Linked DNA regions of Homo sapiens: regions 1, 2 and 4 are each reported to be linked to region 3. Evidence: microRNA targets listed by miRTarBase, many of them from high-throughput screens and not tested one by one. Region 3 holds a microRNA gene; each other region holds the end of a gene's coding sequence.

Region 1 (5,394 bases), not on the chromosome of region 3:
ATTTAACATAATGTCGACTAGGTTCATCCATGCTGCCACAAAAGAATAAAAATGATTTTATTCGTTTTATGGCTGCATGGTGTTCCATTGTGCACATATAGCACTTAAAAAAATCCGTGTATCCACTGATGGACATTTTGGTTGATTCCATATCTTGGCTGTTGTAAATAGTGCTGTAATAAACTTGAGGGTGCAGATGACTCTTTGACGTACTTATTTCTTTTCCTTTGGATATATAACCAGTAGTGGGACTACTGGATCATATGGTAGATATATTTTAATTTTTTGAGGAATCTTGACACTGTTGACCATAATGGATGTACTAATTTATATTCTCACCAACAGTGTATAAGTGCTCCCCTTTCTCCACATCCTCACTAGCATTTGTTATTTTTTTTTTTGTCTCTTTGATAATAGCCATTCTAACTGGGATGAGGTGATATCTCATTGTGTTTTTAAAAAGTTTGTTTTTATTTTTAAATTTTATGGATACATCATAGTATAGTTAACAATAATTTATTGTATATTTCATTGTGATTTTGATTTGCATTTCCCTAATGATTAGTGATACTGAGCATTTTTCCATAAGCTTGTTGACCATATAGATGTCTTCTTTTAAGAAATATCTATTTAGGTCTTTTCTCCATTTTTAAAATCATTTATTTGTTTTTTTGTTGTTATCGAGACATTTGAGTTTCTTATATATTCCACATATTAACCTCTTGACAGATGCATAGTTTGCAAATATTTTCTCCCATCCTGTAGGTTGTCTCTTTGCTCTGTTGATTGTTTCCTCTGCTGCGCAGATGCAATTTAGTTTTATGTAAATCCATTTGTCTATTTTTGCTTTTGTTGTCTATGCTTTTAAGGTCTTATCCAATTAATCTTTAGCCAGATCAATGTCATAAAGCATTTCCCCTATGGCTTTGTCTAGTATTTTCATAGTTTCAGGTCTTACAGTCAAGTTGTTAATTTCTTTTGAGCAGAGTTTTGTATGTGGTAAGAGATAGAGATCTAGTTATTCTTTTGCATACACATATTCAGTTTTTATAACATCATATATTGAAGAAACTGTGCTTTTCCCAATGTGTATTCTTCACACCTTTGTCAAAAATCAGTTGGCTATAGATACATGATTTATTTTTGGGTTGTCTATTCTGTTTCATTATCCATATGTCTGTATTTATGACCATGCTGTTTCAGTTACTATAGCTTTATAGTATGTTTTGAAGTCAGGTAGTGTGATGCCTCCTGTCATTTCCCAAGGTAACTGTGCATTGGGAAAAGGGAAATGATCTGATCTTTTGGGGACTACTGGACACTGGCTCTCAACTGATGTTGATTCCAGGAGACACGAAACATCACTGTTGCCCTCTAGTTAGAGTAGGCAATTATGGGGGTCATGTGATTAATGAAATTTTAGCTCAGATCCAACTTACGGTGTGTCCACTCGATCCCAAAACCCATCTTGTGGTTATTTCCTCAATTCTAACTGTGGTTATGTCCCCAGTGCAACTGTGGTTATTTCTCCAATTCTAATATGCATAATTAGAATAGGCATACTTAGCACCTGGTAGAATCCCCACATTTGTTTCCTGACTTGTGGAGTGGGGGGGTATTATGATGGGAAAGGCCAAATGGAAGCCATTAGAGCTGCCTCTACCTAGGGAAATAGTAAATGAAAAGTAGTGTTGTATCATTGGAGAAATTGCAGAGATTCGTGCCACCATCAAGGACTTAAAAGATGCAGGGGTGGTGATCCCCACCACATCCCTGCTTAACTTTCCTATTTGGCCTGTGCAGAAGATAGATGGATCCTGGAGAATGACAGTGGATTATCATAAGCTTCACCAAGCAGTGACTCCAATTGCAGCTGCTGTACCAGATGTGGTTTCACTGCTTGAGCAAATTAACATTTCCTGGTACCTGGTGTGTAGCTATTGATCTGGCAAATGACTTTTTCTCCATCCCTGTCTGTAATGCCCACCAGAAGCAGCTTGCTTTCAGCTGGCAGGGCCAGCAGTACACCTTAACTGTCATACCTCAGGAGTATATCAATTCTGCAGCCCCATGTCATAATCAAGTTCACAGAATTCTCGACCACTTGTCCTTCCACAAGATGCCACACTGGTCCATTATATTGATAACATTGTGCCAATTAGACCTAGTGAGTCTGAACTCATTGGTAGGACATTTGTGTGTCAAAAAGTACAAATAAATCTGGCTAAAATTCAAGGGACTTATACTTCCTCGTGAAATTTATAGGGTCCAGTGGTGTGAGACCTGTCCAGATAGCCCTTTTAAGGTGAAGGATAGGTGTCTGGCCCCTCTTACACCCAAGAGAGAGGCACTATGCCTGGTGCATCTATTTGGATTTTAGAGGAAACACATTCTGGGTGATCAGGGATTTGGAAGCAACATGATTGGAAAATTGATGACAAAGATACCTGGGGAAGAGCAATGTGAATAGACCTCTATGAATGGGCAAAGATATGAAGATATCTGTGTCCCATGTAAATACTCACCAAAGCATGACCTCAGAAGGGGAGGTTTTAATAAGTGGATAGGATGACCCGTTTTGTGGATACCAGTGAGTCTCTTTCCCCAGCCACCACTGTCATCGCCCAATGGGCTCATGAACAAAATGGCCATGGCGGCAGGGATGGAGGTTATGTATGGGTTCAGCAGCATGTACTCCCACTAACCAGGGCTGACCTGGCCACTGCCACCTTTGAGTGCCCAGTCTGCCAGCAGCAGAGACCAACGCTGAGCCCCCCAATGGCACCATTCCCAAGGGTGATTAGCCAATTACTTGGTGGTATGTTGATTACATTAGTCTGCTTCTGTCATAGAAGAAGTATGGATCCCGTCACCCAGGTAGTGAGCATAATACCTGACAGGTAGTTTTTAACTTACCTTCTCCCCACCTTCACCTTCTAGTAGTTTAATTTTTATGAAGTTCAACTTTAAAATTTTTCCTTTTATGGATCATGCTCTTTGCTTTTGATTTCAACTCTAAGAACTGTTTGCCTAGTATTTTATTTTTTACCTTTTTGTTACATGTTGACACCCATGAGAATACACACAGTCAAGAACAATGACTGGACTCCTAAACTCAGGCTTGGAGTAAAGTAGGTGGAATCAGGGTCTGCTCTTCCAAGGCCTAAGCAGTGGCAGCATAGCCATGTTTGGTGTTAGGGATCTATGGAGTATGATCCAATGAGAAGGAAATCATTACAAAGGAACACAAATTAGGGTGACCTCTTATTTATCACTGAAAACACCCGAGGCATTGGAATAATATAGATGTATCTTTAAAAGATCTGAAAGAAAAGCTTTGGACCTAGAATGCTGCATCCTATCAAATTATCAAATTGTCTACTAAAGTAAACGTGCCAAAATCGTGTTTTTAGATATGCATGCACTCAGAAAGTTTTTCTTCAACTGGTAATTTATGAAGTCTTTCACCATTGCATAGGTCATCTTGTTTATTAATAGTTTTCTATTCCATTGGCAATAAATGTTTATTTGAAGAAATTCAGACATTACAACTGTGTATAAAGATGAGGAAATATTCTCCCTCCATGTTTCCCCCTGCCCTTCCATTCTTACCCCAGTGGCTACACACATATGTACATTCATATTTATATAATGTTTTAATGTAATGGATTCATACTTTTACATTTGTTCCATATCTTAATTTTCTTACTTAATGGCTTTTCAAGGAAGCAGTAAAGATATATTTGATTCTTTGAACATGCTGCATATAGTTACACTTTATGGAATTAGTCATAGCATCTTTCTCCATTTCCCTATTGAAAAGGTTTTAGGTTGTTGCCATTTTTACCTATTATAAACTGGGATTTCCCTGAACATCTTTGGAGATTATATATACATATATCTCACAATATTCAATACACATTTACAATAATATTACTCAATACAAATTTATAATAATATTTCTATAGGCTAGAGTCCTAGAAATGACAGTTTCTAGACGAAGTATTAAATCACACATTTTAAACACATAGTTTATGGGAAGGTGAACCAGAAGAAATGTTTCAACCTCCCCTGTGTGAAATGGATAATTTCCATGTTATCCCTTGTGGTTTTTGTTCTTTCTGACCATTAGCATTTTTAAATTGTATGATAAAATATAAGAGGAAATTAAAAGTAAATAAAACTACAGCAGTATAATAAAGGAAGGATAGAAAGATAAAAAAGTAAAAGCTTAAGATTTAAGCAATAAAACATTTTTAGAAGGAGAAAAATAAAAAATTATAAAAATTCTCAAGAAGAGAAAATTAGCTAAAATATATATCCTCCTCTTCCTTCATTCTTTCTCTTTTCAATTTTTTTGCAAAAACATTCAATGGCTACAAATTACACATTTTTCAGCAATATATTGAAATGTGAAGAATTTTGGAGGATCTGCCTTAATAAAAGGAGAGAAATTTGTTTAGGAAATATTCATGGGGAAAGGATTAGATTAAAGCAGTTTTTGGAAAATGAGAAAGTGGAAAAAATAAATCTTTCCAAGAAAGAGGAGACACAGACAGGAAACGATTGTGATTTAAGAGATACAGGCCGAATTGTTGGGTCATCATCAATGGATGTAAGTGCCCACAATAGCCTTGTCTCACATGGGTCAGAAGTGCTAGCTTCCAACAGCTTTGACTGTTCACCAGAAACCAGTAGAAAACACGTCCAAGTTGAGCAGATTCCACTTACGAGTTTTTCAAGAGGGTGCTTCCTAGGATCTCTTGCTCATAAGCTTCCTCAGGCCCTGTTTCAGGTCTTTGTTTCTCAGGCTGTAGATAAAAGGATTGAGCATGGATGACAAAACTGTGTAAACAATTGTTGCCACGTGGTCCTTGACAGCGTAGGTGGATGGGGGCTGTAAATAGACACAGAAGATGCTTCCATAAAAGAGCGTCACCACGGTGAGGTAAAAACCACAGGTGGAGAAGGCTTTGCGTTTCCCAGAAGTAGAGGGAATCTTGAGAACTGTAGTGAGGATTCGTATATAAGAGAAAGCAATGCAGAGAAAACGAGTCACCAAAACAATAGGTGCTTCTGTCATCTGCACAATTTCATTGACAAATATGGAAGAGCAGGACAATTTCAGCACAGGGCTGAGGTCACAGAGAAAGTGGTGGATAACATTGGAGTCACAGAAGGTGAGACGATTCAGCAGAAGTGTGTGCAGGAGTGAGTGGAGGTGAGGAAATGAGCAGGAGAAGGCCACCAGCAGGACACAGTGGTGGTGGCTCATGGTGGTGACATAGTGGAAAGGGTCACAGACGGCCACATAGCGGTCAAAGGCCATGACTGCCAGAAGGCAGCTGTCACTGTTGCCCAAGGCATAGAGAAAATACATCTGTGTCAGACACC
Region 2 (5,394 bases), not on the chromosome of region 3:
GCACTCCAGCCTGGGCAACAAGAGTGAAACTCTGTCTCAAAAAAAAAAAAAAAAAAAGTGATTAAGGTACAATAGGTACAATAGATCATTAGGTGGACTCTAATCCTTGATGAATGCTGTCCTTATAAAAATGGGACTTTTGAACATAGAGAGATGCAGAGGGGATATGATGTGAGGCCCCAGGGAGAAGATGACCATATACAGCCACGGAGGGGCCGGAAGGAACCAACTGAACAGATGGAGTCCACGTCCTTGATGTTGAACTTCAGCCTCTAGAACTGTGAGAAAGAAGATTTCTGTGTCTAGGGGCCTGTCTGTGGGGCAGGGTGGTGGCGGTCCACGCGGAGAGGGTGGGAGGCACTGGCAGGACGGGGCAGTGGTGGCAACAGAGATTGGTTTCTGCGGGGATGGGGGGAGAGAAGGAATGAAGGACGGCGGGAAGCAGGTTTCTCACTGCTGGAGAAGGGAATTAGACATAGGGGAAGGGCGGAAAAGAGAAGGAATCTGTGGTAGAGCTGGAGTTACTGGGCGAGCTCATGATTTGTCTACACGTGGAGACAGAAACGGCAATGCACACGGATCTGAGCGTGTCGGCTGAGAAGGCGCGGGAGCAGGGGGCCCCAGCAACGGCACACCGGGGCTCTGTAAAGAGAGGGAGGGGACCGGGCTCACTTTTGCCCACCCAAAGCTCCCGTAGCTGAGCTCCCAGCTTGTCTCACCAAATCCTCCCCACAACCCTGTGAATCGGGACGTTTAAGAAGATCTGAGGCTTCCAGAGATGAAATCCCTTGTGTAGTCCCACAGCAGAGCCCGGCGGTGAAGCCAGACCCTCGGACTCCAGCTCCCAGCCCCATCACCATTGTTACTCAGCCCCACCAGTCAGAGGGCGTGTGCGCGTGTGTGTGTGCACGCGCGCGCCTGTGAGCTCGCGCGGGGCAGGAGCGGGCAGGAGCCGGCAGCACCCGCCCCTTTCTCCCGGTGTCTGTACCCGGGAGGGGCTGATTTGGCCGCGGTGGACTCCACCCTAGTGCCCCGGCAAGCCCTGTACATGCAGTGCTACTGCCATCTCGTGGTCGCCTTGAAACACTGACCCTGAGCAGGGGCCGTAGACCGTGCTCAGGACTCAGAACTGGGCCTACCTCCAGCCACCTTGGAGCGGGCAAAGGCTTCCTAAAGCGCCTACCGAGAGCCCGCAGAGCCCAATCCAGGAACGCCAGGGGGACCCTGCCGTGTTGCCAGGATCAAGACAGCCCTGACCCTCTTAGGGTTAGCAGCCCAGACCAGGAGGAAAGACAGACACAGTCCTTTGGTTCTCTCCCAGTGGGGAGTAGGGACAGACGTTATTCTGGAGCTGGGAAGGCAATACCAGAGGCAGAGCAGGGGTCCCTAGAATTACTGAGGAGTCTGAGGGGCAGGGCTCTGAGCCAGGTGTCTGGAGCAGAGGCCATTCTGGAAGGGAGCAGGGAACCATCCGTGACAATAACAACATGTACAGAGCATTGTCTACATGGCAGGTGCTGAGTTACTTGTTGGCTCAGTCAACCCTAACAACCCTATGAGGCAACGAGTGTTATCTGCCCATTTTACCAGTGAGAAAACAGAAGCACAGAAAGGTTAAGTAATTTGCCTAAGGTCACACAGCCCAGAAGTGGCCGGTCTGGGAGGTGGGTACTGACACTAGGGCAGGAGGTGGAGGGGTCGGTGTCCAGGCCCAGGGTGGGATCGTGGTGGCCCAGGGGAGCCAGGAGGGAGAGGGCTTGGTGGAGGCTCTGCAAAAGGCTTCCTCAAAGGCAGGCCTGGGGCTGCCCCCCAGGCGCCCTTTCCCCTGCCCACCAGCCCCTCCCAGCTCCACTCAACCCCTCCCCTCCATGCCCCCGGCCCAGCGCCTTCCGATGTAGCTGGGCCCAGCGGGAGCGGCGGCACCTCGTTAATCCTGCCCTGTGGTGCCAGGTGGAGGCCCTGCTCCTACCCAAGGCTCCCACCAGACAGCTGGCCCTCATTTTCTTGGGGCCAAGACTTCCTGCAGCTGTAAAGTGATCCCGCCCAGGCCTGCAGCCTCAGACAGAGCCTGCTGCCAGGGAACCCAGCCTGACTGCACTGATGAATTCCCGCCAGCGCCCCCCCCCCCAGCCCCCATGCAGCCCCAGCAGCCTTCTCTCTGAAGGAGGCCTTCAGGCAGCCTGGAACTGTTCCAGCCAGCCAAGCCGAGACCTCTGCAGGGGCCACCTCCTGCCTGGCATTCAAGGCCCTTCATGGCCCAGCCCACCCCATCTTACCTCAGCAGCCTTAGGCCGTCCTCACAGAGAGCCTCCTGGCCCTGGGCGTCCCGTCCCATCTTCTTCTTTTCACAGCGTGAAACAATGATTGAGTTTATGTCTGTCTTTCTCGTCCCTTTCCCTCCCACGTGACCCCACAGGGCTGGCACCTGGCCGCTTCACTTCTGTCTGGCGGGCACCTAGCGCTATGCTGTGTGCAGCTGGCTCCCAGGGGATGCACCCACAGGGAGGAATGAACAACCTGGCAGTTTTCACCCTTAGCACCTGAGGCCCTCCCAGCCCTGGGGGCCTTCTGTGGAAGTTTCCTTGGGTTTCCCAGCTAACACAGGGGAGAGGAGGCCTTGGCTTTGATCCTTGTAAAATCACAACTCCCCTCTAAGAGGTCCCCAGTTAAGTAGGGAGAGAATGAGGGAAGCAGGCAGTGGGGTGTGGGTGGGGCAGGCAGGTGAGGCAGCAGTGAGGAAGGTTGGGGGTCCCAGTCTTCCATTACTTAGTGTATGACCAGGCAAGTCCCTTCCTCCCTCAGCCTCAGTTTCCCCATTTGTAACTGGTGGCCAACACCATTGACCCCCTGGGGCTGTTGTGAGGTACTGAAAGGGCTGGGCCAGGGTAGGGCACCTGGCAGGAGCTCACAGATGCCCTGGATGTGGCAGAGGGAGCTTGGCCTGGACCATGAGCATCCTGATGGCGGCAGGGCCTCCCCCTCCCCTGCCTGGCACCAGTGTGCCTGCCCCCAGCTGCTTTCCTTGCCCCAACTCCATCTTGAGGGCTGGGCTGGGCCTGGTCTCCTGTATGCCCAGCTCCAGACCATACCTCAGATGGCAGGTGCTGCCTGCCCACTGCCCATGGGAATCAGTGGCTGCTCACACAGACCTCGGCCCTCTCCCAGGAGCCCAGGACCCTGTGGACCCAATTGCTTTGGCCTCACACCGTTCCCCGACCGTGTCCTGGGCCAGGAGGCTCCAACATGCCTCAGCAGTGACTCCCAGGGAGTCTGGCCTAGAGATCCCACACCTGAAAAGGTGGCACCCTAAGACCTGGGGCTCTTGAGCTGCCATGGAGGGAAGAGCTGACCCCCTGCACCTGACCTGGGGCCCAGCGTCTGGAACTGTGTGCCATGTCTTCCCAACTTAGCTTTGGTGCCTGGAAAATGGGGAGGATGCGCTTCTGCATGAGGAAATGCTGGCACATGACAACTGCATGAGCTTCCTCCTCTGAGCTGGGCGGCTCATGGAGTCCTAGTCTCCGCATCTATACATCGAGGACGCTCACTTTGCTTCTCCCAGGCTGTTGTGATGCTACGAGCCAGTGCGTAGCCCCAGGCTGTGCCTGGCACCCAGCCTCGGAAGGCCAGCATCCTCCTGTGGCCTGTGCACCCCACATGCGCACACAGTCCACACAGGTCCCCGCCCTTGTGATTAGTGTGCTCTGTGCAGGGCAGGAGCTGGCCTCATGGAACAGCAGCACGAAGGTGCCTTGAGGAGGGAGGGGTGTCAGCTGGGGAGGGCATGCATCCTCCGGGCAGGGGCGGTGGCTGGAGCCTGCCATGTGAGGTGGGAGGAGGCGGCACCTGCGTAGTGTAGCTGGGTGTTTGCTCCTGTCCTTCCGCCTGCACCATCTACAGATGCTCACCTCTCGGATGGCCCCCAGCCCTGCCCAAAGTAGTCGCTGCCTCTGTGAGGCCAAGAAGTCATTTCTGACCAGGAGACTTGACAATGCTGCTAGCAGGGTGGTTTTCTACCTTTAATTGGGGATACAAAAGGCACCTCTCCCAGTACAAGAGGATCAACCAAGAGGTGAGCCCCAGTGCTGTGGTGCCCGGCCAGAAGGAACAGAGGAAGGATGGAGGGCAAGGCAGCGGAGGGGCAGTGGGGCCCCAGCATCCCCTGAAGCCTCACCTGCAGCCTGGGGCTGATGAGATCTCGCCCACTGCGCGCAGAGTTGCAGCTTCGTACCTGGGCCGCCGCAGCTCCTCAGGGGGCCTCCACACCTCCACACCCTACCCTCAGTGGCCAGCCAAAGCCATGGGGCCCCATGCAGCAGAGCAGGGAAGGGACAAGAGGCTCGGCAGAATTTCCACTGTGGCCAGCCTCCAGCCAGGCCTCGACTGGCAGTGTGGGCTCTGAAGGGCTCCTTGGGGCATGGGCCCGGAGCAGGGTATCACTCAGTGAAGGAGAGTCACACTGGGTCAAGCAGCCAGCCAGCCAGCCAGCCTGTCCTGGGGCCTCCACTTCTCAGCAAAGTCTCATGGTCAGCTGGGGTGGGAAAGGAGGCAGAGCAGCCAGATCCCACTGCAGCGCAGACCTGTCCCCCAGTTCATCCCACTGCCTCCACACCCCCAGCCACAGCTGGGGCAGCTCCGTCTTCAAAGAGGAGGAAAAGGGGGTAACAAGCCACCCCCAAAGCAGCCTTAACACCAGAGGAGGGAGGGAGGTCCCAGCCTAAGGGTGTGAGAGCAGTGGGGACCTGGGCTGCAGGGTGCCAGACCCCACACTCATAAGGCAAACAGCATGTCATCATCTTTCTCCTGGGTCTTCTTCCGGGGCGCTGGGCCAGATGGGGGACCCGGGGGCCCCTCAGCTGAGGGGCTGGAGAGGTTGGGCAATCGGTCCGCGGCTTTGGCCCGTTCTTCCAGGAATTTGTCAAATTCTAGAGGAAGGGGAGAGGGTGAGGGTAGGCCCTGAGGCCAGAGCCCTGGGGAAAGGAGAGGGCGGGCAGGGGCGGGGACTACTACCTTCGCTGGTGACCCCCTTAGGCTCTTCCGCATCATTACCCTGGGAAGGTAGAAGGAAAGGAGGCAGAGGTTAGCCGGGCCCCCAGTACGGTCAGCCTGGGGCAGTGGTGCTGCAGCTCGGGCCCCGCTGAACCTCAGCACTGGGTCCCAGCTCAGGCTCTGCACGCCCCCACCACCCAGGTCCCAGGACCTGGACCTGGGCTCCTCCCTGAGCCGTAGGACCTTCCTTGGGTGGCACCTGACTTCCTGAGCCTTGTGTTTTCCTTCTGTAAAATGGGGGCGGGGTGGGGGCTGAAGCTAACTTGGAGGGTTGCTGGGAAGCTGAAATGGGATAACACACAGCACGCCAAGCCCAGCACCTGGTGCCCAGTGGGACCTTGATGA
Region 3 (5,334 bases):
CTGTCCCAGTCCCTGCTCCCTGCCATTGTGGAGCTGGCTGAGGACGCCAAGTGGCGGGTGCGGCTGGCCATCATTGAGTACATGCCCCTCCTGGCTGGACAGCTGGTGAGTGAGGAGGCCTGGGGGCCAGGCAGTGCTGCCTCAGGGGAGGTGCAGTATGTCCAGGGCTGTGATGGGGAAACGGGGCTTTGAAGGCTTAGTGGAGGCTGTGACAACTGCCTGGGGAGTCGAAGGAAGGGACCCAGGAAATAGGGCCTTAAAAGATGCATTGGATTCAATAAGAGAGAGGAGGGAAAGGAGCACCTCAGACAAAGTTGAGAAGTGTCCGGTCTTTCTAGGGTGGGTGTAGGTTCCATGGGATGTGGCTAGCAGCTCCCCCTGTTTGCTCTCCTGGAACGCTTACCTTGGAACCCTTGGTTTCTCCTGTAGGGAGTGGAGTTCTTTGATGAGAAACTTAACTCCTTGTGCATGGCCTGGCTTGTGGATCATGGTGAGTACCTTCACAGGAGCAGCAAGAGGAGATGGGAGCTCCAGAAAGGCAGGATGGATTGGCTGGGGCTGTGGCGGGCAGTGGAGGAGGCTAGAGTCACTCCCCACGCCGCTGGATGCTCGTATGGACCAGCTCGCATGCTTGTTAGAGTCCTAGAGAAGTGTTGAGTGGGAGGAGGACGAAACAGATCACCCAGGGGTTGCCTGGTATAGTGGAGAGCCAGAGGGCCACTGAGCAGCCAGACCAGGGTTTTGAATCCTGCCCTTGGGGCTGTCAGATCTAAAACAAGTCACCTGCTGTCTTTGAATGAGCCCCACACTCATTCTTTGAAACTTCTTATTCTGGTGCCTTGGGGCCATTATGAGAATGGCTCATTGTTTACACTAAGAGAGGTAAAAAATAAAAGGTAATATTTATCTCTGTGAAGCCCTGTTTGAAGTAATAAGTGCCACATAATTTAGGCAAATCACTTCTTAGAGCCTTAGTTTGCCCATCTGTAAAATGAAGCCAGTAGTGGAACCTACCTCTTGGAGTGGTTGAAAAGATACTGTATAAAAAAAAACAGTTACTAGATATAGCACATAGTAAGTCCTTTTTTCTCTCTTTGGCTCACATGCAGCCTGGCACCTAGGGGCTGCTTTGTAAGCCATGGTGAGTGTGACCTACATTTTGCCCACATCAGTTCTTCACCTCCAAATCCCTGTCTCTCTCACCCTCACCCTTCTGCAGTATATGCCATCCGCGAGGCAGCCACCAGCAACCTGAAGAAGCTAGTGGAAAAGTTTGGGAAGGAGTGGGCCCATGCCACAATCATCCCCAAGGTCTTGGCCATGTCCGGAGACCCCAACTACCTGCACCGCATGACTACGCTCTTCTGCATCAATGTGAGCCTTCCACCTGCCTGCTGGCCCATCCCTAGGGAACTGGAGCGCGTGGGAGAGGAGGGATGCTAGAGGGTTCCCCAAGGGAGACACCTGGCTTGGGAATGGAGACATGGAGTGCATCTTCTATCCAGAGATGAGTCCTTGGGGAACTGCAGGCAAGGGGGTGGGGCTCCCAGGGTCAGGGTCATAGGGCCTCTGGGACTGGGGACTTGGATGGTGAGGGACCCAGGGCCTGGGAGACTTGACCTGTTGGAGCAGCGATCTCAAGCTTTATGAGCACCCCTCTCCTTCCCTGAGAAATGTGTGTCTCTATCTGTGGTGCGTTGGGTGAGTGTATGGGCTCTAGGTCAGACCTAGTTTTAAATTCTGGTACTGCCATATATTAGCTATGGACCTTGGATAGTTACCTAACCGATGCTTTGGTCTTCTCATTTGTAAATAATTCATACTGTAAAGAATTCATACTGGTAATCACAGCCTGGTGAGCGTGAAGATTAATCAGGTTATACACGCACAGGGCTTAGAACAGTTATGCTACAGGTAGGAAGTGCTCCTGTCTATTTGCTTTTCCTACGATTATAATTATCTCATGTACTACTTATTTATGTGTAAACCATACACAGGGCTAGAAAGGAAGGGATTTAAAAATAAATATAACTAAGTGTTCTGATCATTTCTTCCCACGCCACTCTCTGGAGAGCATTGCTTTAAGGAGGGATCCTAGGGCTTGGTAATTAAGGTCGATCTCCAGAATAATTAAGGGAAGCCTGAGGACAGAGAAACTGGGACATGGTGTTAGGATGGTGTTAGTGGAGTTGGGAGATTCACTCCACTAACTGAGTCACCCGTATTGCTCAGCCTCTGTGGGGCCTGATGATCACCAGAGTGGCCTGGTCAGAGGCAGCAGGAAATGAGAGTTAGCCAGGAGCTTTGCATACTCACCCCTGCCACTCACTGGCCCCCAGGTGCTGTCTGAGGTCTGTGGGCAGGACATCACCACCAAGCACATGCTACCCACGGTTCTGCGCATGGCTGGGGACCCGGTTGCCAATGTCCGCTTCAATGTGGCCAAGTCTCTGCAGAAGATAGGGCCCATCCTGGACAACAGGTGAGGTCTGGATACTCCCCCACACACTGGCAGGGGCTTCTTGTGGGCACCTTAATCTTTGACCTTTGAAGGTAGAGCCCAGGGTCAGAGGCCTGGCAGCGCTCCTTGCTTGCTGTGTGACCTTGGCTCCCTTCCCTTCTCAAGGTGTGTTTTCTCAACTGTAAAATGAACATCACAGCATGAAATAGAAAGAGGGGGTGATGGGTTGGCAGTCCTGTATACTAGCAACAAGTCATTAGAAAATGAAATCACCTTATGTTTTATATGTAAGTATGTGTATAATTTATAATTGCACCAAAAATATCAAATAGCCAGGAATAAATTCAATGAAAGATGTGTATGTAACACCTCTAATGTAAACTGTAAAACACTAATGTGAGAAATTAAAGCAGACCTGACCAAGGTGGGCGGATCAGTTGAGGTCAGGAGTTCACGACCAGCCTGGCCAACATGGCGAAACCCCGTCTCTAGTAAAAATACAAAAAATTAGCCGGTGCGGTAGCACTCACCTGTAATCCTAGCTATTTGGGAGGCTGAAGGCAAGAGAATTGCTTGAATCCAGGAGGTGGAGGTTGCAGTGAGCTGAGATCATGCCACTGCACTCCAGCCTGGGCGATAGAGCGAGACTGTCTCAAAAAAAATTAAAGCAGACCTACATAATATTCACGGATGGGACAGTTCCCTGAACTCATCTTTAGATTCAGTATAAGCCCAATAATCTTAACAGGTTCTTTAGTGGAAAATTGACACTTCTAATGAACAAAGTTGTCTGATTTACACTACCAGAGACGAAGACTTATGACACCACAATAATTAAAATAGATGTGAACACAAGCATATTTAAATCGCCCAATAGAATGGAATCAAGGGTACAGAAACAGTCCCACATGTGTTTAACAGTAGGCATCTCTGCAGTTCAGTGGAGAAATGTATGTTTTTTAAAAAACATAGCTGAGTCAATTTGATATCCATTTAGGAATAAAAGAAGGCTCGCCTCAATGCATAAACAAATTAATTTGAGATGACAGACCAGAACCAGAAAGATTTTAAAAATAAAGGACCTAGAAGAAAATGTAGGAAAATATCTTCTTGAGTTAGCGTAGGCACAGATTTGTTAAACAGCAAACCAGAGGAAGTGATGGGTAAGTTGACCTTCTGTAAAATGTAACGCTGTTTCTCAAAAGACAGCATTTTGAGAGTAAAATGCAAGCCACTGACTGGAGGAAGATGTTTTAATATATGTTTCTGAGAAAGGACTCATCCACAATACCTGTCTACAAATCAGGCAAGACAAGAAAGAGATGGGGAAAAAGACTTGAATAGGCACTTGAAAAAGGATCTCCAAATAGCCAGTAAGCATATGACAAGGGTGTTCAGCATCATTAGCCTTCAGGAAAATGCAAATTAAATCTCAGTGACATATGACTACACGCCTCCCAGAACAGCCAACATTAAAAAAGACTCAGTGGTGCAAATGGTGAAGACATAGAAGAGCTGGAACTCTCATCCATTGCACGTGGGGCTGTACATTTAGGGTTTGATCACTCTGAAAACGGGAGTGGATCTGGAGTGGAATTTGGTGAAGCTTGTTATACAAACAGCCTGTGAAACAGCCCTTCCACTCCTGGGTCTCTATCCAGGAGAAATGAGTGCTGTTTCTGTCAGAAGAATGTTCATGGTAGCTTTATTCATAGTAGCCGTAAAAATGGAAACAACCTCCATGTCTGTCCACAGTAGAGTAGATAAATTTTAGTTCATTCAAACAGTGGAAAACTATTCAGCAGTGACGAAACAAATGCCTGCTATAAGCAGCAACAGGTGACTCTCACAGATACCATGTTGAGTGAGGAGCCAAAATCAAGAAAACACACCATTTATGTCAAGTTCAGAAACAGGCAGAATGAAGGAATCGAGATGATGGAAGTAAGAATAGTGGTTATTTGGGGAGAACAGGGAACTGTCAACTGAAAGTGTGGGACCCACAACTGCAGATTTCTCTTTCTGTCTGTTCCAGGACACAACCTCAGCTTTAGTTTCTCTCCGAAGTCCCCCTCCGTTTTCCAAAACAATTGACTCTTGGTGCAGGCGGATTTCCCTGGGCCCCATAGATGAGAGTGGATGCCTCCTCTGGGCTCCTGGAGGACCAGGAACTTCCCCTTGGGGCCACTTACCACTCCCCTCTTACGTACCAGTTTGGTCTCTTCCTCCTGGCCCGGGTGCCTCATGGCAGAAATCAAGAGTGATTTAGCTCTGTATTCACTCCTAATACATTGTAGGCCTCAGTGAATATGTGTGAAATCAATGAAAGATACCCATTTGCTGGGCCTCAGAGACTTGGGGGTTCTGAGATTCTGTTCCACTTTCCCAGCCTGCTCTGATCTCCCTGTTTGGGGCCCCAGTCCTTGTTTATCATACTTCTGACCTTTAAGTAATTGGTTGGTTGGTTGGTTTTTTGCAGTTTGTTTGGTTTTCCTTTGAGGCAGAATCTCGCTCTGTCGCCCAGACTGGAGTACAGTGGTGCGATCTCGGCTCACTGCAACCTCTGCCTCCTGGGTTCAGGCAGTTCTTGTGCCTCAGCCTTTCAAGTAGCTGGGATTACAAGTGTGCACCACCATGCTTGGCTAATTTTTGTACTTTGAGTAGAGATGGGGGTTTTCCCATGTTGTCCAGGCTGGTCTTGAACTCCTGGCCTCAAGTGGTCTGCCCACCTTGGCGTCCCAAAGTGCTAGGATTACAGGCTTGAGCCCCCGTGCTCGGCCTTGAGTTTACCTTTTTTTTTTTTTTTTTTTTTTTGAGACGGAGTTTCGCTCTTGTTGCCCAGGCTGGAGTGCAATGATGCAATCTTGGCTCAC
Region 4 (5,394 bases), not on the chromosome of region 3:
AGACCTCATGAACTCAGGAAGGTGCTTGTCCAGGAGTTCCTGGCTGCTGTGCCCTTCACAGGCAAAGACTGCATTCCTTCCTCAGCTGCCAGTGAGGTGCTGCCAGGCATTCCCTGTAGAACTTTCAGGCCAGTTTATGAACTGGTTGGCACCCGTGTCCTCCTCCTGGCCCAGGCAGGAGAACCATGAGCAGGCAGAAGGAGACTTTGCAAAGTGCCTTCCCCAGCATGTGTGCCCTCTGCCCTTCAGAGCCTGCAGATAGGAGGGGTGGCGAGGACACTGTTCTCAATGAGCAGAACCTCCAAGACACCCAAAGCTGCCTGTTTGCCACCTGGCCCTATGCCTGCCCCGTTTTCTCCCTCAAGGCCTTCACCCGTGCTAGGGCAGTCACCTGGAATGTCCTTTCCATTACCCCTGCTGTAATGCCCAGCACAGAACTTGATGGCAGGCCTTTGCATGGTAGCCTGAAGCGATCTCACCCTTCTAACTGGGTTTGGCCACAGGCACACTGGCTCATGCTTACCTGTGCTGCCTGTGGTTATAGTTATGCGAATTGTGGTTTTACATCCCTAAAACAGAAGGGCACGGTGTCCAGGGGATAGCACCCAGCCCAACTTCAGAAAGACTTCAGGCAAGATGTCTAACCCTCGTCTTGTTCTGTTTCTTCCAGGGAATTCCAATGCCCACTTTCGGAGGCCTCTTCCCCTACCCCTACACCTACATGGCAGCAGCAGCCGCAGCCGCCTCGGCTTTGCCCGCCACTAGTGCTGCAGCTGCCGCCGCCGCAGCCGCCGGCTCCCTCTCCCGGAGCCCCTTCCTGGGCAGTGCCCGGCCCCGACTGCGTTTCAGCCCCTATCAGATCCCGGTCACCATCCCGCCTAGCACTAGCCTCCTCACCACCGGGCTGGCCTCTGAGGGCTCCAAGGCCGCTGGTGGAAACAGCCGGGAGCCTAGCCCCCTGCCCGAGCTGGCTCTCCGCAAAGTAGGGGCCCCATCCCGCGGTGCCCTGTCGCCCAGTGGCTCGGCCAAGGAGGCGGCCAATGAACTGCAGAGCATCCAGAGACTGGTGAGTGGGCTGGAGAGCCAGCGAGCCCTCTCCCCAGGCCGGGAGTCGCCCAAGTGAGGGGCTGCCCAGCTGCTCCCCTGCCACGCAGGCCACCCGGGCTGCCTGCCCCTGCTGCTTGGGACGTGTACAGCACAGAATGAGTATTTATTTAAATAAAGGAGAAAAGTGGGCTGCAGCAGCCGGAATAGAGCCTCGTCTGGCAAGTCGGGGCCTGGGACACTTCCCTGGGCCTCAACAAGGATCAGGCTGCTGGAAACACAGTCACTTGGGAGCTGCTGGGCTAGGTCCAGATCCGCTCCAGCGTCAAGGTGGCATCCGAAGGTGTCTCTGGTCTTCCAGCGAGGTGGGAGAGGCCTCATCCAGGGCCCAGCGGTCCCTGCAGAAGCCAGAAGGTGCAGGGGCCAGGGGTGGGAGCATCGGAGGGAGTCCCAGAGCCCTGGACCTTGGGCCTAGACCGCGTGATAAAACTGGGTTGAGGGATGCTGGAACCAGTTACGACTGAAGTCAGTGTAGACCTGAGCTGGGAGGGAACCTGTTAGTCTCCCCACCTCTTCCCTGAAGAGACAGGCACCCCTCCCAGCCGTGGTCAACGGAGGGAGTGGCACTTCTGCCTTGAGTCCCCAGGGGAAAAAAAAAAAAGATATTTATGAAATAAATGGTAATTTGTGTAAATAAGCTTTAAGGTTCCCAGAATATGCAAATTGGTATTAATTTATTCAAAGGTGTACATTGCTGTGTACATATATTTAGAGATTAACTCATACATTTAAAGTTTTTTTCATTTTACGTGAGCATCTATATTGTACAGGGCTGGGGGGGCCCTTGGCTGCGGGAGAAGGCCCAGAGCCCTGGAGGAGCCACCACCCCGCCGGCCCCTCGACCCCTCGGCCCCTCGGCCCCTCCGCCCGGGTTTGGCTCGCCCGGCCCGCGGGCTCCACCTCAGGTTTTCACTTTTCGCTCCGGAGCGAGAACGAAACGACAAAAACGCAAGAAAACAATAAAACGCTAGAAAGCGAAGTGAACGGCGCTGTGCGCTCTGTGGGTCGCGCGGGGCTGGGGCGCTGCACGCGCGCAAGGAGGGACGAGAGGCGGGGACAAAAGGCTGCGCGCCCCTCGCCCGGCGGCAGCTGCACCCCGGGGACGGCAGGGCGGCACGGCGGCAGGGCGGCTGGGGCGCTGGCGGAGCCGCGAGGCCGGGCGGCGCCGGCGCGGGACGCGGGGTGCGTCCCAGGCCGGGGCTGGACTCCCCCTGCCGGCCGCTCCCGCAGCTCCGCGCAACGGGCCTGGGCACCCACCCGGGCCGGGAGGAGAGCAGCCGAGCGGCCTGGACTCCTGGCTTCTGACTCCCTTTCCGGGAAACCACACTGGAAACCCATCTCCTTTCAATGCTTCTGGGTGGGTGGGCTGGGAGGATGGGTGTTCCTTGTCCAACCTCTCCCTTCGGAGGAGGGGTTTGGCTGTGTCCCACCCCCGTACTCCCCGCCAAATATCGCTGAGCCTAGAATTCTTTCCCCTCTCTCTGCCTCCTGAACCTCAAAGACAAACATTTCCTCCGCGTCAGGGCTGTTGGCTAGAGTGGCAAAATCTGGACTAAAAGGTCTTACTTTAACTCATCTATCTAAATCCCTCTTGGGAGAGTGGAGAGTGGGGTCAGTGGGCTATTTCCATTCCTGCCTCAGTTTCCCCTGTATAATAATGGGCTTGGCTGGGGTCTCTCCGGGGTCCAGCTGTGTCAGTCTCCATTAGGCTGGTCCTTCCCCGAGACCCACTCCTGCAAGGACAGCTGCCTCCCACCCCGCGCCGGTGAGCTCCCCCTCCTTGCCCAGCTAGCAGGTGTCTCCAGCCCCCACTTCTAGCAGTGGGAGCTGGGCGGGCACTCCTTTAGCCCTGGGTCTGGTCGGTCACCGAGCACGCCACCTCCTTCCCAGTTCTCTCCTCTTTAAGCCTTGGGGACCCTGAACGCCCTGCCCCAACAGGCTGCCCACCTTGGGCACTGCACAGGGTGGGGCTTGGGGAGGGTGCTGGCTTCCAAAACACCAGGGACGTTGAGATGGAGGAACGGTGATGGTGAAGGTGGAATGGACAGTTGGGCCCCCAGACTCCCAGGACGCCTTTGTGGGCCGATACATTTGCAAGGAGCGAGAGAGAGAGAACCAGGCCCGCCTCTTCAGGATGGTGCTGCCCCCAGGCCACGCCGAATGCGGCTGGAGCAGGGAGGGGACTCAGCCAGTGCACGAGTGGGAGGTTGCAGTAGAACGTATCCCAACCCCAGAGGGTGGGTTCTGGCTTCCCTGCCTCAGACCTGCGGGCAGGTCCGGGAACCCGACAGGGACAGAGAAGCCCGTTTTCCAGCCTAAATAGAAGCTCGTGGGCAGCGCGTTTGCTGGAGGTCGCTTTGGGCTGAAACGCCTCTCATACTCCTAGAGGAGCGGCGCGTTTGCGTCCCGCGGCTTCTCACTTTCAGCAGGACATTAGGAGGGAGACGAGAGTCGGCTGCGCGCCCGCGGCGGCCTACGTACAGGGCTGCGGACACCAGGGGGCAGCACCGACTTAGGGTCGCGGGAGGGGTGCGGGTGCGGGCATGGGCGCGGGGGAGGCGGGTGCCTGCGAAGGCCGGGCGGGGCGGCCTAGTCGCGGCCGTTTTTAGGCCGCGTCGTTGCTGCAGCAACCCGGGTGGGGTGGGGTGGGACTCCAGGGCCTCGAGATCCCCCACACCACTTTCGCCGCCACCTCCCGCCGCACATGTCCCCTCCGAGTCGCCCACCCGGCGCTCCGCGGGGCCCCAGCTGGTAGCCTGAGTGCGACTGCGGGAACCCGCGGCCGGCGGCTGGGCCTTGTCCCAGACAAAGGCTAGGCCACTCCCATGTCCAATTAAGCCACCCTCCTCCCCGGCCTCCCAGCCCTCATTGTCCCCGGGGTCGCCAATTAGCCTAGGCGCCCGGCGTACCCGCCGCTCCGGTGCCGCAAGGCCTCCTTAACCCTTCAGGGCCTGGCCCGGGGTCCTTGGACGGCAGAGCCGCCGGCACACGCGTGGCAGGAGGGCCAGTGCTGGGACGATGGCGATACCTGCTGGCGGCCTAGCCTGTCGCCTCGGGCTCTCGCGTGTGGGGCGTGTGAGGTCTAAGAGGGAATTGTGCGTGTCGGTGTGGGGTGGCGCGTGCGATTCCCGGAGGAACTCGGAGATGGAGGGTGTGAGTGCAGGGGCTCCGAGAGACCCCTAGCGGCTAAGCCGCCCGGATCCCAAGGCCCAGGGGACCTCATTTCCTCTCGGGTTAATCGGAATCTTCCGAGCCCTCAAGCCCTTCCTCCTCCACTCCCCCGCCGCTGCTGTGGAGAACCGGAGCCACCGGTATGGCCTGGCCCTGCCCTCCCGAAGGCCGCAGCTCCCGGGCCCGCCTCCCCAGCTGACCGCGAACTCCTGCGTGGGGTGCTCCTGGGGCGGGAGGGGCGCGCTCAGCCTCGCTCTCCCCGGGACTCTCACGCTCAAGCGCCCCGGCTTGAGGCCGGGACCCCCTATTTCCCGGTTATGGGACGGCCCCTTGAGGGACAGCCTCTACGAGCCCTGGATTTATACCCCGAGCCTGCCTTCCTCCGCTCTGGGAAGGACCCAAAATCCAGTCCCGCTTCCTCCCCCTCCTTCGCTGTCCTTGGCCCCGAGGTGCGGAGCACCGGCGGTCAGGCGGGATCCCGCAGGAGGCCGAGCGCTCCCTGCTCGCAGGACAGGGCGGCAGCGGAGGGAGCCCCCGCCCTCTTGGGAGGAAGCCCGAGCTCCGGGTCTCCTGGGCACCCTCCCGGGAGCGCCTTCGGGGTGGAGGCTGGTTGCCGGGCGCTGAACGTGTCCGAGCACGCCCGGGGCGGTTTTGCACTTGGACTTCCTTTTGGGCTCTCCGGAGGCGCATATCTGTTCCTCCTATTGGATGGGGCCGGGGACCCCAAACCCACTCCGGAAGCACCGATTTCCAGCGCTGACGGCCGCGCCTGGTTTCCCAGCGAGTCCTCTTGGCAGCTCCCGCAGCTCCCCGCCGGGAGCACGAGTGGGAGCGAACCCAGAGCCCGCCCAGGCCTCGGGCCTCGGCAACTCCTCACAGGTCCACGAGATGGCGCTGCAGGCCAGGGCCCGGGCCGCGGCCTCACAGCCCGCCTCGGGCGAGAGCGGGAGATAGACTGCGGACCCCGGCAAGCGGGGCACGGAGGCACAGCCACCGACACAGGCAGAGCCGGGTCCGGAGCCCGGCACAGGCCGCCGAGGGACCGAGGGACTCCGGGGCTGCGGACACACTGAGCGGAGGGCTTGAGGCTCGGGGTGGGGCCTTCTCCCCTGCTGCCAG

Evidence for each region. The annotated mature microRNA hsa-miR-6801-3p reads ACCCCUGCCACUCACUGGCC and lies in region 3 at 2,315-2,334, shown strand. An mRNA with a match to its seed (bases 2 to 7 or 8) in the 3' UTR can be bound and repressed. Matches are read on the target gene's strand: a 7mer-m8 pairs with bases 2 to 8, a 7mer-A1 pairs with bases 2 to 7 and ends in A, and an 8mer does both.
Region 1: miRTarBase lists OR1L8 as a target of hsa-miR-6801-3p. The part of its 3' UTR that is shown has no 7-base or 8-base seed match.
Region 2: miRTarBase lists TOM1 as a target of hsa-miR-6801-3p. Seed matches in the 3' UTR shown: 7mer-A1 at 4,159-4,165.
Region 4: the mRNA of TBX2 is a reported target of hsa-miR-6801-3p. Seed matches in the 3' UTR shown: 7mer-m8 at 1,461-1,467 and 7mer-A1 at 1,688-1,694.

The regions. Positions count from the first base shown.
Region 1 is chr9:122,562,795-122,568,188 of GRCh38, forward strand. OR1L8 (olfactory receptor family 1 subfamily L member 8) reads right to left here. Exons shown (of 5, transcript NM_001004454.2): 5 at 4,323-5,394. The coding sequence ends at 4,754. It also overlaps a transcript of OR1J2 not described here. Among named protein-coding and RNA genes, the nearest start is that of OR1N2, 12 kb to the left of the region's middle.
Region 2 is chr22:35,346,586-35,351,979 of GRCh38, reverse strand. It overlaps TOM1 (target of myb1 membrane trafficking protein), which reads right to left. Exons shown (of 15, transcript NM_005488.3): 14 at 5,011-5,050; 15 at 4,007-4,925. The coding sequence ends at 4,771. Among named protein-coding and RNA genes, the nearest start is that of MIR6069, 12 kb to the right of the region's middle. RefSeq lists enhancers at 813-932, 499-1,007, 1,598-2,130, 2,131-2,663 and a silencer at 1,033-1,152.
Region 3 is chr19:52,219,760-52,225,093 of GRCh38, forward strand. It overlaps MIR6801 (microRNA 6801), which reads left to right and starts at 2,261; the gene lies at 2,261-2,339. It overlaps PPP2R1A (protein phosphatase 2 scaffold subunit Aalpha), which reads left to right. Exons shown (of 15, transcript NM_014225.6): 10 at 1-105; 11 at 430-490; 12 at 1,220-1,374; 13 at 2,340-2,482. RefSeq lists an enhancer at 1,801-3,000.
Region 4 is chr17:61,407,384-61,412,777 of GRCh38, forward strand. It overlaps TBX2 (T-box transcription factor 2), which reads left to right. Exons shown (of 7, transcript NM_005994.4): 7 at 671-2,083. The coding sequence ends at 1,123. LINC02875 (long intergenic non-protein coding RNA 2875) reads left to right here and starts at 4,368. Exons shown (of 1, transcript NR_160788.1): 1 at 4,368-5,394. RefSeq lists silencers at 2,105-2,164, 2,175-2,224, 2,235-2,384, 3,545-3,714, 5,235-5,294 and 1 more and an enhancer at 3,083-3,665.